2 linked regions of the Homo sapiens genome follow. The protein of the gene in region 1 interacts with the protein of each later gene in a pairwise test. Each region holds a gene or a part of one and is shown in the gene's direction. Other genes may lie near its edges.

Region 1 (3,500 bases):
GAACCTTTATCTGGTACTCCGTTTTCATCTAGCAACATTCACCACAGCAAGAGAAATTTCATACCTTCTCCAGATCTTTGTAATGTGAATTGACCAAACTGAGAAAATAGAGTGGAAAATTGAGGTGGCTGCCATCTTGTTTCTCATATTTGAATAGCTCAGATCATTCAGCCATTCAACTGGTCTACATTGAGCACATACTATTTGCCTTGTACCAAGGTAGACATAGGTAAGACATGGACCCTACCTTCAAAGAACTCAGAGCTTAGAATGATGCATAGACATGTAAAGGGGTAATTATAATACAATTAAGTAAGAATACTAATTTTAGAATTATAACTGTAGATATGAAGTGTTGATATACAAGTAAATACAAATAAATATTTTTTGGACTTAAATGGTTTATTTCTAGGTTTTTACACTGGAATTGTTTTGTCTCTGTTACCTGCTGAAAAAAATAAGGACCCAGCAGTCTACTTCTTCTACAGATGCCAACTGCTACATATTGGTTCAGTGTTGAGGGAGCAGAACTGTGTGTATGGAGCTTTTTGGAGCTGGTTGGAAGCCACAAGTGTGTGTATGTGGAGTGAGTGGGCCTGCCCAAGTGCTTGGTGTGTGATGGTTGCGCCCAGTCACCGCCTCTCCATGTCTCTCCAGCTCTCTGCGCCCTTGTTGCCACCATCTGGTTCCCTGTGTGCGCCCACCGTGAGACCACCATCGTGAGCTTTGGCTACTCCCTGTATGCAGGCTGGATTGGTGCTGTGCTGTGCCTCGTGGGTGGCTGTGTCATCCTCTGCTGCGCTGGAGATGCCCAGGCCTTTGGTGAAAACCGTTTCTACTACACTGCGGGCTCTAGCTCCCCGACTCATGCGAAGAGTGCCCACGTATAAGAGGGCTGCCCGGCTGCCCACAGAGGTGCTGTAGATGCTGGGCCCAGGGCCCTAGGTTTGCTCGTCACAGTGTGGGGAAGCCCATTCCTCTGCCAGGCTCTAAAGCCAAAGGTCTAGAAAAGCATCCTGTCTGGCATTTTGTAGTCTTAACTTCTCCCCATTTCCCCCATCTTTTGGTTGCCTTAAAAGAAATCTCTAGCTCAGATAATGCCCAGACATTTTTTTCCCTTGGTGTTGCCCCTATTAGCTCTTTTCTTGGGCATTCTTTTGCTGTTTATTAAAAATATATTATATATATTTTGTTTCTTTAAATTTCAAATGTTTTGCAAACATCACTGAGTTAGGTGGGGGTGGGGAAGAGAAATACAAGATACTTTTTTTTTTTTTTTTTTTTTTTTTTTTTTAAATAGGGCCTCACTCTGTTGCTCAGGCTGGAGTGCGGTGGTGTGATCTCGGCTCATGTAGCCTCAACCTCCCCGGCTCAAGTGATCCTCCTGCCTCAGCCTCCCAAGTAGCTGGGACTACAGGCGTTCACTACTACACCCAGCTAATTTTTAAGTTTTTTATAGAGATGAGGGCTCCCTATGTTGCCCAGGTTGGTCTCGAACTCCTGGACTCAAAGTATCCTCCCGCCTCGGCCTCCCAAAGTGTTGGGATTATAGGAGTGAGCCACCACACCGGCCAAGATGCTTTTCAAACTGATACAGATGACAATGGGAGCCTCATAAAGATGGCTTTTGTTTCTTCCCTTCAAGGTCATTTACTTGTACGAGACAGAAAAAGATAGCATTGGGGACATGGGATGGGGGAGGGAGGGCAATAGTGGAACGAACTTTCCATGGGAAACTTTCCCTTTTGTAAGTTGAGGGCCAGGGGTAGGGATATTTTTTAGTTTGTGATTTTACATTTATCTGTACATACTTTTTCAAGATTGATCATTTTTATAACCATGGTTTTCCTGAAATCCTCAATTCATCAATATGAAGGAAATGAACCACATAGACTTTATGCAATAAATAACAGTGCAAGTGAGTATAACTCTAACTGATGTTCCACAAAACATTTTTGATTTCAGGTTTGTATGATGTAGTTTTTAATCGTACATTTTCATATGCTTCAAACTAACACATTTTTAAAGCTTTCCCCCACTTTTCTCTCTATTTGTATTGTTAGCCATCTTGAAGTGATGTTGTTTAACATAAATTGTACTGTTGAATTTGGCTTTACGGGTGTAAACACTGATGGTATATCAGTATCTGAGACCCCAAACTCTCCAAATACTGATGGTGCATTTTATTCTTGAAGTGAAATCTGTGCAATAAAATAACAGACTGTCTGCAAAACTGGCCTTCAATCTTCTGTTGTATCCAGAGGTATCATTATTGATTTAAAAAAATCTCATTAATCTCTACTGGTAATTTATAGGGAATCTGATCAGTGATTCAAGAACAAGTAATTCTGCATTGCCTTGAATAATTAAAAAGTTATATTTTATTCACGGTATTGCAGTGGTAATTTGTGGTCATGAAAGCATAACCTCAGTGCTCTCTAGGTTTCTTAAGTGGGGTGACTTTATGGCATCTTTAATCATCGATCAATGGGCAGCAATCAGAAACAAAGTTCTCAGCATTATGCAGTTAATGTCCTTCATCTACTTCTAACACTTAGTAAAGGAATTGATTGGCTAGGTATAAAAAGAGAATTAACGAAACCTATTTTATTGGATCTTTAAGTAATAATATCTAAATACATTTCGTTCAAACATACATATGTAGCTGTTTGGACATTTTGGACAAAGACACATTGAGTTGATTTTTATTTGTTTTTCTGTTCCAGAAACTTCATCAAGTTACGGGCCTGGTCTAAGAAAACACATTGCAATCTATTTTGGCAGACTTCTTTCAAATAAAATACTAATTTCATTAGCTGATAGTATAGTAATTGGCAAACATTTCCTCTTTGGAAATACCAATTTGGGCTAGCCATTTTGCAGAAATTTGTGTAGTTTTGATTATAACCTGTTGGAGAGCATTTCTAAATTACTTATACATAAAAGATAATCTTTTTTTTGTTTGTTTTTTTGAGAAGAAGTCTCGGTCTGTTGCCCAGGCTGGAGAGCAGTGGTGCGATCTCGGCTCTCTGCAACCTCCGCCCCTTGGGTTCAAGCGATTCTTGTGCCTCAGCCTCCCAAGTAGCTGGGACTACAGGTATGTGCCACCACACCTGGCTAATTTTTGTATTTTTAGTGGAGACAGGGTTTTGCCATGTTGGCCGGGGTGGTCTGGAACTCCTGGCTTCAAGTGATCCTCCTGCATCAGCCTTCCGAAGTGTTGGAATTATAGGCGTGAGCCACCGTGCCTGGCCATAGAAGACAATTTTTATGTTAACTAAAATATTTGCTTAGCTATTATAATATAGCTTTTGTAAGGATAAAAGTCATGTGACTACATTGGAGGACTCTCCCTACCTCATTAAAAGTTGTCAAGGTATAACGATTATGAACCAGAAGGGAGCAAAAAGCGTTTGAGGGAGTGGACGAGGAGGCTTCAGACCCCATGATCCCTTTCCTCACAACCACCAGCTTGTGTCAGAAGTGTCATTAAGTGGGTC
Region 2 (2,763 bases), on another chromosome or scaffold:
GCTTTTGTCTTTCATTAATCCCAGAGTTTATAGTTGTTTTTAGTAGGGAGTAGCAGAGAGAGACGAGTCTACACCACCTGGTCAGGATCACTGTTATTCCACCAAAACCAAATCAGATAAAAAAGTGAGGGCTTATCTAGTTAAAGAATGGTGTGGTACCCAGAAAACCCAATATGTAGCTTCCATGTCATTTATTTCTGAATCACAACCTCTAATTTCTCTTCTAAATCTCCAACTCTGAGAAATATAGCACAAAAATAGTTTGATTTAGTCACAGTATCTGGAGGAATGAATGCACAGTATCAGGAGACTTATTTAAATCCTTACTGTGTTTATTCAGTCAATTGGGGTAACTATTATAATGCAAGAATTAAAACTTCTTTATTAACATGAGAAGAATAAAAGTACTAAGTATAAACATTGACGGGTTCATTTATATCAAAATTATAAACATTTATGAAAGTTTTTGGCACTGCAAATAGTGGTTTTCAAATTTAATATATTGTTTTTGTAATGTTTTCATAATTATTATTTAAGTGAAAATTCTTTCTTTTCTTTTAGAAATTTCTGTCCATCATTTCACCATCCTCATGGATTGGTGTGTTTCGTAACAGCAGTCATCATCCATGGGTGACAATGAATGGTTTGGCTTTCAAACATGAGTAAGTTGTTTTGTATGGCGCTATATAACAATATATATATAAAGGATAAATTCAGAAGAATAATATGAATAAATCTATGTGGAATCATAGAGATGAAGAAAGATGTGGAAAGTTAGTGAAATGCTGACATAAATATTTTACAATAGACCATAGTAGTCCATATATTTCAACCGCTCATTGGTCAGCTAGTAACCTTCTTGATTATCAGGTGTCCAATCTTTGGCTTCTGTGGGCCACATTGGAAGAAGAAGAGTCTTGGGCCACACATAAAATACACTAACACTAACGATAGCTGACGAGCAAAAAAAAGAAAAAAAAAATCACAGAATGTTTTAAGAAAGTTTACGTATATGTATTGGGCCGCATTTGAAGCTGTCCTGGGTCACATGCGGCCCGTGGGCAGCGAGTTGGACAAGCTCGAGCTGGACTATCAGGGAATTGCAGTGCTTGTTTTTATTAAAAAGCCACACTTACTTTTTTTCTTAAGAATATCCTCAAAGCACAAGAGTAGTGCTGTTGGCATATTGCTATAATTTTGTTATTAGTAGTTATTGTTGTCAATCTCTTATTGTGCCTAATTTATAAATTAAATTTTATCACAGTTATGAATGTGTAGAGAAAACATAATCTCTCTATAGGTTCTGCACTATCTGCCGTTTCAGGCATCCACTGGAATCTTGAAACATATCCCTCGTGGATGAAGGGGGACTACTCTGTTGAGTGTTCAGAATAATGACTCTTACTAATATTATGAAAAATTTAATTACCCTTTTCCATGAAATTATTTTCTTACAGTACATGGAAAATGCTTTCGTCTCATGAATCATTTGCTTAAAATGTAACAGAATATGGATTTTTCTCCATTACAGGATAAAAGACTCAGATAATGCTGAACTTAACTGTGCAGTGCTACAAGTAAATCGACTTAAATCAGCCCAGTGTGGATCTTCAATAATATATCATTGTAAGCATAAGCTTTAGAGGTAAAGCGTTTGCATTTGCAGTGCATCAGATAAATTGTATATTTCTTAAAATAGAAATATATTATGATTGCATAAATCTTAAAATGAATTATGTTATTTGCTCTAATAAGAAAATTCTAAATCAATTATTGAAACAGGATACACACAATTACTAAAGTACAGACATCCTAGCATTTGTGTCGGGCTCATTTTGCTCAACATGGTATTTGTGGTTTTCAGCCTTTCTAAAAGTTGCATGTTATGTGAGTCAGCTTATAGGAAGTACCAAGAACAGTCAAACCCATGGAGACAGAAAGTAGAATAGTGGTTGCCAATGTCTGAGGGAGGTTGAAATAGGAGATGACCTCTAACTGATAGAACGTTACTTTGTGTCGTGATGAAAACTTTCTAAATTTCAGTAGTGGTGATGGTTGTAACTCTGCGAATATACTAAACATCATTGATTTTTAATCATTTTAAGTGCATGAAATGTATGCTTTGTACACGACACTTCAATAAAGCTATCCAGAAAAAAAAAAAAAGCCTCTCCTGGGATTATTTGTGACTGCATTTATTCTCTAAAGTAATTTTTAAAGATTAGCTTCTTTATAATATTGACTTTTCTAATCAATATAAAGTGTTTCCTTCAATGTACTGTGTTATCTTTAATTTCTCTCTATTGTATTTTGTATTTTGGGGGATTGAAGTCATACAGAAATGTAGGTATTTTACATTTATGCTTTTGTAAATGGCATCCTGATTCTAAAATTCCCTTTAGTAATTTTTGTTGTTATAAATAGAAATACAACTGATGTCTGCATTTTGATTTTATATCTACTTATTCCACTGATTTTATATATGTAAATCTATTATGTCAACTATTGATTTATTTCTGGGTGTTCTATATAACGAGCAATTTTATCTGCACATGATCACACTTTTATTTTTTTAATCTATATGCTATAACGTAGTTTTATTTTCATTTATTTTCACTGGCTAGGGTTTTATACCCATAGTTGAATAGAAGGTACAATCAAAGTTCTGTGTGTATCATATGTATCGTTTTCTGATTTTGGCAAAAAATACTTAAACATATTATTCATATTTACAAAGCTTGGTGTTGTTTTCATCCTATCTTT

What was found.
Region 2: the proteins of CLDN11 (region 1) and KLRC1 interact in binary tests that used the Homo sapiens proteins (3 or more experiments, as listed by UniProt).

Annotation. Positions count from the first base shown.
Region 1 is NC_000003.12:170,431,867-170,435,366, forward strand, and holds the end of CLDN11 (claudin-11), read left to right. Parts: intron 1-657; coding exon 658-890; 3' UTR 891-2,825; downstream 2,826-3,500. UniProt on the Homo sapiens protein: Plays a major role in tight junction-specific obliteration of the intercellular space, through calcium-independent cell-adhesion activity.
Region 2 is NC_000012.12:10,445,431-10,448,193, reverse strand, and holds the end of KLRC1 (NKG2-A/NKG2-B type II integral membrane protein), read left to right. Parts: intron 1-561; coding exon 562-662; intron 663-1,531; coding exon 1,532-1,643; 3' UTR 1,644-2,166; downstream 2,167-2,763. UniProt on the Homo sapiens protein: Immune inhibitory receptor involved in self-nonself discrimination.